Regions from separate parts of the Homo sapiens genome. Here all the other regions are linked to region 1. Evidence: fine-mapped expression QTL. A gene starts in region 1. Each other region holds a variant in brackets. All regions are shown on one strand. Distances are between the middles of the regions. Region 1 holds the start of NSA2 (NSA2 ribosome biogenesis factor). Region 2 has its middle 38 kb from the start of HMGCR. Region 3 overlaps FAM169A (family with sequence similarity 169 member A). Region 4 overlaps GFM2 (GTP dependent ribosome recycling factor mitochondrial 2).

Evidence for each region. PIP is the estimated chance that this variant, and not a neighbour inherited with it, causes the effect. A credible set is the group of variants that fine-mapping cannot tell apart.
Region 2: its variant is the best candidate, but not a certain one, in a credible set for the expression of NSA2 in cultured neurons (Aygun 2021, PIP 0.79).
Region 3: its variant is the best candidate, but not a certain one, in a credible set for the expression of NSA2 in whole blood (INTERVAL, PIP 0.54).
Region 4: its variant is the best candidate, but not a certain one, in a credible set for the expression of NSA2 in whole blood (TOPMed, PIP 0.67).

What each region holds. Positions count from the first base shown.
Region 1 is chr5:74,765,722-74,768,411 of GRCh38, reverse strand. It overlaps NSA2 (NSA2 ribosome biogenesis factor), which reads right to left and starts at 1,163. Exons shown (of 6, transcript NM_014886.6): 1 at 1,049-1,163. The coding sequence starts at 1,051. GFM2 (GTP dependent ribosome recycling factor mitochondrial 2) reads left to right here and starts at 1,295. Exons shown (of 21, transcript NM_032380.5): 1 at 1,295-1,474. RefSeq lists an enhancer at 1,143-1,582.
Region 2 is chr5:75,374,124-75,376,813 of GRCh38, reverse strand. It overlaps a transcript of CERT1 not described here and the pseudogene RPS26P26. Among named protein-coding and RNA genes, the nearest start is that of HMGCR, 38 kb to the right of the region's middle. The variant ATTTATTTT/T (reference allele first, on the strand shown) is at 1,224.
Region 3 is chr5:74,824,321-74,827,010 of GRCh38, reverse strand. All of the region lies in intron 5 of FAM169A (family with sequence similarity 169 member A), which reads left to right. Among named protein-coding and RNA genes, the nearest start is that of FAM169A-AS1, 40 kb to the left of the region's middle. The variant G/A (reference allele first, on the strand shown) is at 1,434.
Region 4 is chr5:74,733,229-74,735,918 of GRCh38, reverse strand. The region is part of intron 15 of GFM2 (GTP dependent ribosome recycling factor mitochondrial 2); the gene reads left to right. Among named protein-coding and RNA genes, the nearest start is that of GFM2, 33 kb to the left of the region's middle. The variant C/T (reference allele first, on the strand shown) is at 1,406.

The DNA.
Region 1 (2,690 bases):
ATCCCTACAGTTTTGCCTTTCCCAGAATGAAACAGGGATCAACAGTAGTACATAGCCTTTTGAATCTGGTTTCTTGCTTTTGGGATTCACCCAATTTGCTGCAGGTATAGGAACTTCAATCCTTTTTATTGTTGAGTAGTATGCTATTGTATGGATACACCACTGTTTACCCGCTGACCAGATGATAGGTATCAGGGTTGTTCCCAGTTTTGGGTGATTACGAATAAATCTGCAATAAACAACTGCATGCAAGTCTTCATGTGGACGTGTGTTTACTGCCAGACCGTTTTCCAAAAGTGCATTATTTTTCTTTTCACCAGCAATGTATGGGATGCTTTTTGCATTTTAGACACGTTTTAAACACGCGGCCAGGCGTGAGTCTATTCGTATTTTAAGGCTGCAAAAATAAAAATGATACAAAGCCAAGTCCAGCACAGAGAGCAATGTTAAGTAACAACCAACAAGGTGTGCTGCTACCAACTGCTATCACATAAACTTTGCAGCAATCACATGAAGGGTGTATGGAATGCCATTTTGCAAAGAAACGCAGATTATAGAGACGTAACACAAAGAGAAAGGACCTGGCAGTTAGATCTGGGCCGTTAAGCCCGGCTTCGCAATTCATTAGCTGTCTGGTCTTTGGCAAGGACGCCTTCAGTTTCCTCAGCAGTAAAATGAAGGGGGCGGGACTGACATCTAAGACTGTACAAGGGACAACCATATTCCCATTAGGCTCTGGGGCTGATAACCACGCTTGTGGTGAAATCAGGAATTTTTAGGACTCTTAGCGGTGGATCAAAAAGAAAAAAGAAAACAGGACAGAGTAAAATCTTGCTCCAAAGCTTGTGTTCTGGCAAATACCGTCTGTGTCTCGAATGTGAAGTTGTTTCCACTCCTCAGAGCCCACCCCACGGGTCTACCATCCTTTTCTCTTGGCAGTTCTCATTTCCGCCTACCACCGCTCACCCCCTACCCCAGCGCCCCAGAGTCCTCAGGTCCCACTAACTCAGACGCTGTGTGTCGCGAGCGTCCGAGGCATCCTCCTTACCATGGTGACGGCCGCAGAGCCGCCAGGAGCAGCCGCTGGAGTGCGAAAACGCTCTCAATTTTCGGGTCTCAAAGACCCACAAGCCCACACCACGCAGGCCGGGACAGGAAAGAGTCACCCTTTAAAACGGCCGAGTGAAGAGCAAGAACCACGCAGCGGTTCCGAGCCTCTGTTTTCCGCTTTTAGCTAGGAGGACGGAAGTTGCTGGCAGGCGGCATTTGGCCGGTACACCGCCGGAAGTGTGGAGGTGTGGCTGCCCGAGGCGGTAGAGCGGAGAAAGCCTATTTTCTTTTCGTTTAGATACATTGCCTTTTGCCTAGGCTGGCGTCGAGACTTGAGGCCGTTGCAGACTTTGGCGCGGCTCGCGCCTCCTGCTTCAAGAGCCCAGCGGTGAGAGCTGGCCTGCGGCACGCGGCCTAATGCCAGGTGAGTACTGCTCCGAGCTGTGAGACATCGCGCGCCTGTGACCCTGTCACAGCGCTGGGTACCGCTGACCTTTCAGGCTGCGACGGACACAGCCAGCCACGGAAGAGGACAACAGGGCCTCCGGACTCCCCTCGGTGTTCGCTCAGTATGGAAGTTTTTCTCTATCATTCGGCGAAGTCGACTCATCTTTGTTCCGGTCACTCTGTGTAATGTGTGCATGATTGTGAAGGATACTGAGGAATGAAAACTTAGTGTACAGAAAAATGGAACTACTGGGGCTTTGCAGCTGTTAGAAAAGAAGAAGATAACATTCTGGTTTTTTGGAGGTACAGGACTGATTCCAGAAATTTCTGAGGCATTTTGGTGCACCGAATCAAATGCTGAGTGGACTTGTATTTAGTGGCCCCCTAGTGTCAAGAAGTAATTAACTACCAGAAAGTACGTCTACTTAAATACACTATCAGGTTTACCCTTTTACTGCACAGTTGCAGAAGTTCCCTTAATTACTTCACAGCTTGCAGCGTGATTCAGTTGATGAACAAAAAGAACTGTACCAAAAGAATACTTTCATTAATTCTTAGTGCTTGTATTTGAGGCAGTATTTTGTTTTTGTTTTTGTTTTTATGGGTATTTTGAGACGGCATCTCGCCCAGTCGCCCAGGCTGGAGTGCAGGGGCACGAGCTCGGCTCACCGCAGCCTCGACCTCCCGGGATCAAGCGATCCTCCGACCTCAGCCTCAAAAGTAGCGAGCTACAGGCTCGCGCCACGAAGCCTGGCTGATTTTTGTAGTTTTTGTAGAGATGAGGTTTCACCGTGTTGCCCAGGCTGGTCTCGAACTCCCGGGTACGAGCGATCCACCCGCCTCGGCCTCCCAAAGTGTTGGGATTACAGGCTTGAGCCACAGCGCCCGGCTTTGAGGCAGTTTTTGTTTTGTTTTGAGACGGAGTTTCAATCTTGTCGCACAGGCTGGAGTGCAAATGCGCCATCTCGTCTCACTGCAACCTCTGCCTCCCGGGTTCAAGCGATTCTCCAGGTTCAGCCTCCCAAGTAGCTGGAATTATAGGCGCTCGCCACCACACCCAGCTAATATTTTTGTATTTTTAGTAGAGATGGGGTTTCACCATGTTGGTCGGGCTGGTTTCGAACTCCTGACTTCAGGTGATCCACCTGCCTCGGCCTCCCAAAGTGCTGGAATTACAGGCGTGAGCCACCGAG
Region 2 (2,690 bases), 610 kb before region 1:
AACATAAGGGATATTGCATTGATGTCTCAGTTGTTTAGCTTTATCCCAGGAAAAAGGGTATTTGAAAATATTAAATAGGTTCCAGTCTTAGTTACCTGAATGATTGGTGTTTTGGAATATAGCCTTACCCTTTAGGGATTCTCTCTTCAAGCACAAGTGCACTGCATTCAGTGTGCTGACAATTTTTATATCTTGTACTTTAGAATTGTTATAGCTAGATCTGGACACATTACTTCTTATCGATTCTGAGTCTGTGCCATATTTATCAAATAAACCAGAAAACTGATGGCACGTGACAGCAACAGGCTTATCACCCTGCTTCGCTGTGTGTCTCTTTGCCATGGCCTCTAGGGTTTTTAAAGTGGTGCTGTTTCACTCTATCCAAGACCAGATTTTGTTTCACTCTAACTATATCTGCCTTCTCTCTTCTTCACTATGACCTCACTGAAACGGCCTCCCTCTTGATGCTTTATGATGACTTCCTTACCAAAGGTTCTCAGATATTCAACCAAGCAAGGCAGAAATACAACTTTGTATTAAAGCAAGAGAAATCTGAATGCAGTTGTGTGTAAAACATGCTCTCAATTATATTTGAGAAGAATAATTTTTTAAACAGTTGAAAGATAAATGGTAGGATATTAGCAGCATTTGCTTCTAGACTTGGATTTAGAGCGGTGTTTCATTGACTCTCTGTGTGTGTGCATGTGTATGTTCACAGATTTTTCATTTGTGGACCTGGGAGGGAGGAGCTTGGAATCTGAAAAAATTCATCTCTGGGGAAGAGAGGTCTATTGTTTGTGGGTACATGTATATGTGTGCAAAGATACAGCTGAAAAGATTCATTGGCCCAAACTCAGATTTGGCTTTTTGAGTCCAGATTGAGCTTCTTTCTAACAAAGATCCAAATTCAAACCTTAACATGGTAAAATCTTTGTTACTGTAACGTAACTTTTTTTTTTTTTTTACAATAATTATGGAAGATAAATGTATGAAGTCGAACCCAGCATTGAAACCCTAGGAAAGCGAACATTCTTAATTTTGGTGATGGAAAAAAATAGTAACATTCAATAATGTGTGTATCATCTTTAGAGAAAGTTCTGTAAAGAGTTAATAAGATCCAAAGTTGTTTAACAGTAAAAACTTTATATATATATTATATATAATATATATTTTTATTTATTTTATTTATTTATTTATTTATTTATTTATTTATTTATTTATTT[ATTTATTTT/T]GAGACAGCATCTCACTCCTGTCGCCCAGGTTGGAGTACACTGGAGCGATCTCAGCTCACTGCAGCCTCAACTTCTCAAGCTCAGGTGTTCCTCCTACCTCCCTGGGTAGCTGGGACTATAGGCACACACCACCATGCCCGGCTAATTTTTTATACTTTTAGTAGAGTTGGGGTTTCACCATGTTTCCCAAGCTGGTCTCAAACTCCTGAGTTCAAGCAATCCGCCTGCCTCAACCTCCCAAAGTGCTGGGATTACAGGTGCGAGCCACCTAGCCCCGCCAGTAAAAACTTTTAAACTCATTTGACAAAGAGGTCTGAGCATGTTTGTTGATTAAATAAGGCAGGCCTCTCTCTCATAGCTTGAATACATTTTTTAAATTCTTGGTAAGTAGTATTGTATGTCATAATTTTTATTGCAGGCTAAGAGGAAAGAAATGCCATGTTGTGGAGTAAAAATCCAGAGACCTTTCACTGATTACCTCTGCTCACCTATATTGCCCTTTTTTTTTCAGGTGCCTGTGCCCCCTTTATTTTACACAACTATGCAAATTGTGAGGCCAAGGATGTGACTGCAAACAATTAAGATTTGATTTACATGAATAAGCTTTCTTCTCCATGAAAATACACTGTGTCACTTCACACTTGGTCTAACACACACACAAAATTCTCACCCTAGGTGGCACAGATACACTCAGCATGCAATATTAAGTACAATTTCCATTTTATTTTTCTCCAGAGAATAGTCCATCTTCAGTCTTTAAGGACTCAGCTCCTTACATGGGCTTTGGTGGGGGTCATGGGGCAGCACCCGCAGGTCTAAATTGGGGTGGAGGTGTTCGATCCTTCTCCTTCATGAGATCGATTCCTGACTACTTTGTTGTGAGTTGCACAACTCACACAGTAATATAGCTTCACATAACAGCTTGGGAAGCACATAGACATCAAAGACACTCGCTTCGGAAATGTCCCTGACTGCTGCGACCTTCACTGTGTTTCAAATGACGAATTTCTTAATGGCCTTGTCCTTGGGCACGCATCAGGCACGGTTCGTGCAGCAAACAGGCTGCACGTGGCTGTGGCCCTTTTTGGCACAACCATTGTTCCTTCTTTTCTTTGTCATCTTGGAGGCCTGGACTGTAGAGAGGACTGTTCCCGTTTTTTTTTCTAACTTTTGAAAAATTCCATATACCTTTGATTCCTTGCTGATGGAATAAGTTCAAATTTGTAAGGTTAATAATTTTGCATTCATAATGATAAATTTTAATAGAGATTCCATGCATTCCATGAATATGGAGGGTGGGAGAACTCTGTTCTGGTAGTCTTGCAGCTGTTCGTAGCAAACATACTGCTGAGTTTTTTACTTGTCTTTTTTTTTTTTTTTTTTCCTTCAGTGACTGAAGCAAGGCTGTGTGACATTCCATGTTGGAGAAAAAAAGAAAAAAAAAAGCTGAATGCTCTA
Region 3 (2,690 bases), 59 kb before region 1:
ATTAGACAAAGCCAAATTAGGAGAGTTATTCTATAAAGTAACTGACAATCAGCCATAGTGTCAAGGTTATGAGTGACAAGGGGAGATGGAGGAATTATCGAAGACCAGAGTTTAGGGATATATTAAACTAAATGCAGGAAGGAATTCTGGATTGGATTCTGAAACAGAAAAGAACATTAGTGGAATAATGTGTGAAATTTGAATAAAGTCTGTAGTTTAGCTAACAGTATTATAGCAATGTTAATTTCCTGGTTTTGATAATAGTATTTTGGCTATATAGGATGTTAACATTAGGGTGAAGGGTATATGGGAGCTCTTTGTAATGTTTTTGTGACTTTTCTATAAGTCTACAATTGTTTTTAAAATAGTTTTTTAAAAGTCAACAATATGTCAGAAATAACATCTTCTGTAATTATTGATTGAAACTTAGATGAAAATTTTTAGATATCACAAGGATGTGTGAATATATGGTATTTCAAAATTATTTTATGGCTACATGAGCAAAAACGTCTCCTTTGAGGAGTTTGACTAGGCCAAAAGAAAAAAGAAACTAAAAATACCAATATAAATGGTTCCCCTAGGAAAGGCTCCAGCCATATCATCCTGCTGTGAGGTCCATTGCCAGCAAGCCCCACCATACACACAGAGCTTCTAATTAGCTTTTTAATATCTCATTCTTAATTATGAACAGATAGTCATAGGTAAGGAAGGCCACTGATGTGAAAAATGGTGATTAAAGCAAAAGAGAGTAAAAGAGATTTGGAGGAGAAGACAATGCAAAAAATGTGGCCCTTAAAATTTTTGGAAAAGTTAGTCATTGCATTTATGAAATAAGAACAAGAATGTTCACAGAGCTCTTAGAAACTAAAACAAATCCAATAGAGTTGGAGGAGGTTGATCAGAAAGGAGTGCAGAAACAACAAAAAACAAACCTAAATGATGGTAAATAGGAAGAGATGATAAAATTAGAGGGATTATTTAAATAATACATGTTTCAGGAGGAGAGAACAAATTGGAGGAGAAAAAATCACCAATAAAATAATTCACTAACATTTCTCAGAACTGTAGAACACACATTTCCAGATTAAAAGGGCCCATTGAGCATCCATCACAATGAATTAAGATACACTCATACCAAGATTATTGTGAAATTTCAGAGCATCTGGAATAGAGAAAAGATTTTGAAAGCCTCCATAAAGTGAGAGAATGATTTAGACAAAAGATCAAGAATCAAAACGTTACTAGAGTTCTCAACAGCAACATGAATACTAGAAGTGGAATAATGCCTTTAAGATACCAAGGGTAAAGTGATTTCCAGTGTGTTCTGTGCCCCGTCAAATTAATAAAGAGTGAGAGTGAAAGAAGGAAATTTCTAGACTGTCAGTCTTAAAACAATTTACCTTTTATATACCCCTTTTCTGGAAGTGAGTAGA[G/A]TTTGTGCTCTCCTAAGATAAAGAAAATCAAGAAGGAAAGATGGGATTAGGAAACTAAGAGAGAAAAGAAAGGAGATCCAACATCACAGCTATGTCAGTTGTGGAGCTGCTCTTTGTTAAAACCACTAGCTTTATGTGGCTGTTGAAGTTAAATTTTAAAATTCAGTTTCTCAGTCATGCTGGCCACATTTTAAGAGCTCAATGGCCACATGTGACTAGTGGCTACTGCATTGGACAGAGTAGATACAGAACTTTTCCATCATTGCAGAATGATCTTTTGGACATTTCTTTTTCTAAAGATTGACTGATCTAGATTGGAGCAGATCACAAAGCTCTGGGACGTTGATTTAAGAAGATAGAGTTCATAGAATACCTGATGTATTTGAATTTATTGGGATAAGATTTACATAGTTACTGGAGACTTTGGAGGATGAGAGAGATAGTAATAAATATTATTAAGGGAAATCAAAAAGTGTAAGAATAAAGATAAAAATAAACATTCATGGTACACTATATGGCTCAGTTGTCAAAAGCATTTATATAGTCATAATGTAAATACTGAAAATTGATCTAACAAATCACAAATTACTATTTAGGGGTGTTGGGGTTTTTTGTATGGGAAGTGTGTTTATGTTGGAGTTGAGATTGGGGTGTGTGAATGTATTTAAGAGCTAAATTCTCACCTTCCAAGTTCTAGCTATCTATGCCTAAAATGGAAAAATGAAGAAATAGAAATCAAGAGGTATAGTAAGTTACTTAGAGAAGTAGAAGTAAATACCGAAAATATCAGCTAAATGACTTCAAAATGGTTGCTTTTGGGGTGTAGAAAGTGTGTTTGTGTGTGTGTATGTGTGTGTGTGTGTGTGTGTATGTGTGTGTATCAGGAAAGTGGTCACAGAGCTGCTTTTTTTTTTTCTTAAGTCTTATATGACTATTGTATTCTAAACAATGTTATGGATGACTTTGATTAAAAACAAGAAGTATACATTTAAAAAAATGAGGCCATGTCCAAAGTGTAATCACTATCTACCACAAAACTAGCTGAACTTTATAAATCCTTCTCAGCCTGGAATGATAAGGACTATCTGTTAAAGGGCTGTGCTAATTAGAAGATTAATGAAAAAGTCTCATACAGTTACTAAAATAATACAAAACAAATCACTGGTTAATTCAGTGGAAGTTTTGTGACTTTTGGCCTATATCAAGAAGTATATAAAGATGCAAATTTGTGTAAATAGCATACCGTATTTTAGTGTA
Region 4 (2,690 bases), 32 kb after region 1:
AGGAAGTCTGGTAAAAGCAGCCTTTTAAGTAGGCAGCAGCAGAGTAGAGTGGAAGGCTGCTAGTAGTCTCTGCCACAGCCTTCTTGCCTGGCTTCATTTCTTGTGAAACTTCCGCCTTCATTTTGACCCTCTTCTTTAACCCAAATTAGAATAAAACTATAGTACCTAGCCACACCTTATGCTCCCACAGTAAAATAATTGTGATTTCCTGAAGGTACCGTGCTCTTTTTTGCATCGCTATTTCTTTTCTTCTGTTCTCTCTTGCATTATAATAGTAGCCCATGAACTTAACCTGCCTGGAAAAGGTTTACCCTTTCTTTAGGTCTCACCTCAAGCATCACACTTTATGAGGCTCTCACTGAATTCCTATATTAGACTGTTTGTTTAAGGACAGACCTTCTAGTTCTAGAAGTGGCATTAGAAGCCCTCTTTCCTTTGAAAACAAGTTGGACTCACAGATTATGGGAGAACAAAAGCAATCTCTATTGCCTCCCCTTGTCTTCCTGAGGACCCTGTAGGGAGAAAGAAGGAAGATCCCTAGCCCAGTAGAGGTTACAGTTGCTCACCTCCCCAAATGGAGTTCACATGAAAGAAATCTGAATATAGATGTAAGACAGCCCCCAGTACTGAAGGAAACTGAAACTGAGTCTTTTTGTGTCCACTTGCTGAAGGAATAGCATTTAAGTTAAAATGGGCCTAACAGCAATTTTTCTGTTACTTTAAATGCCTTGAGGACAGTTAAGTATAGTTTTTATTCTAGTGGAAAAGGATCAGGTGATGATGCATCTGGCTGCCTAAGTATATCAAAGTTAACCAAGCTGGTTGTATCAGGAGTGGCCAGGCATTTAAGAGCAGGGGCTGCCCAAACAAAGTAACCCATGGATTCTTTGAAATATATTTGAGAGTCATTTTATATTTCAGATGCAGCATGAGCACCTAAATTCAAATTGTGGGCTTGCAGTGAAATTGCACCAGCCAGTTTTGCATCTAAGAACTCAAGCCTTTAACTACTTTAGGAGAAAAAGTGTGGTATCCAAAGTCTCATTAATGGGCATTAGCTCAGGGGTCCTAAGCCCCCAAGAGGAAGGGATTTACCAAAGCTCCCTTACTTAGACTTCTTTCAAGCAGATCTACATGTTTCTTTTTTGTGCTTTTATTGTACTTACCCCATGGTCCAGTTATAACCCTCGATACCTGTTACAATGCTAACATCACAAATATTTTAAAATAATTTATTTTACAGTAAAAGTTATTTTTATTCCAAAAGTCACTTAGTGTCATACGCATGTACTCTGTTTGAGTATCTGTATGTGCTTAAAATAAAATATTATCTACAATAATGCCTCTTAACCTTGAACGTACATACACATCTCTTGGGATTCTTGTTAAAATGTAGACTCTGACT[C/T]AGTAGGTCCAGAACCTAAGATTCCGCATTTCTGTCAGACTCCAGGCATTACCAGTGTTGCTGGTCCTTGGAGCCCACTTTGGGATGTCAAGGGTCTAGAACAGTATTGTCTAGTAGAAATATAATGTGACCTACATATGTAATATAAAATTTTCTTATAGCCACATCAAACAAACTGGTGAAATAAATTTTCATAATATATCAAAATATTACTTCAATATATCAATATTAAAATTACTAATATTTACAATATTAAAATTATTAATATTACTGAGATATTTTACATTCTTTTTTTCACAGTAAGTCTCAGAAACCTGGTGTTTATTTTACATTTACAGCATCTGGCAGTTCATAACATTAATACCCCCAAATGGCTGTGGTTACCATTTGGATAGTGTGGGTCTAAAAGGCCTGGTTTGTATACCTAAGATACTTTGAATGTGTGACTGATAAGGTTAGCTCATTAATCCAGTGCTCAGCTCTTTTCTTTAGCTACACTTTGTCTGTGGAACTTCTAACATATTTCTTTTATAAAAAGAGGGAGAGTATACTTATCAGTTAATTGAGTGTATTAAAATATCACTTTAGATGGCATACTTAATGCCATCTAAAATATACATTATTTTCGCAATGGTTGTGATAATTCATCATAGAGTTATACTAGTACCTGTTTATTCATGATGTAATTTTAGCCTCCTTTTGGCACTTCATTATTGCCAGTTTTTCTGAAGGCATTTTACTTTTTTGTCAGCTCCTAAATTGATATTTGGAAAATAAAATCAGATGATGTTACTGTTCCTCTTAAAACCTTTCAGTGGCTTCGCAGTGCAAACCCAAACTTTTCATCATGGCCTACAAGACCTTACATGATATGATCCCTGCCACACATCTCCTTCCTCATCTGATGCTATTCTTCCTTTTGCCCACTGATCTCTAGCTGCTAGTCTTCTTGCTCTTTTTCCCAACAGCAGATTGTTCCTTGTATAGCCATTCCCTCTATCTGGGATTCCTTTTCTTCAGGATTTTGCTTATAGTTTGTTCATTTCTGTCTCAAGTCATCCTGGAGAGGCCTTCCTAGACCACTCAGTCTCAGGTAGCCTCCCATTATTATTATTATATCAGCTTCTTTTTGTCTCTGCAGTATGTATGGCTGTTTGAAATTGTCTTTTTTTTTTTTTCTTTTTTTGTAAAGACGGGGTTTCGCCATGTTGCCCAGGCTGGTCGCAAACTCCTGGGCTCAAGCGATCATTCTGTCTTGGCTTCCCAAAGTGCTGGGATTACAGAC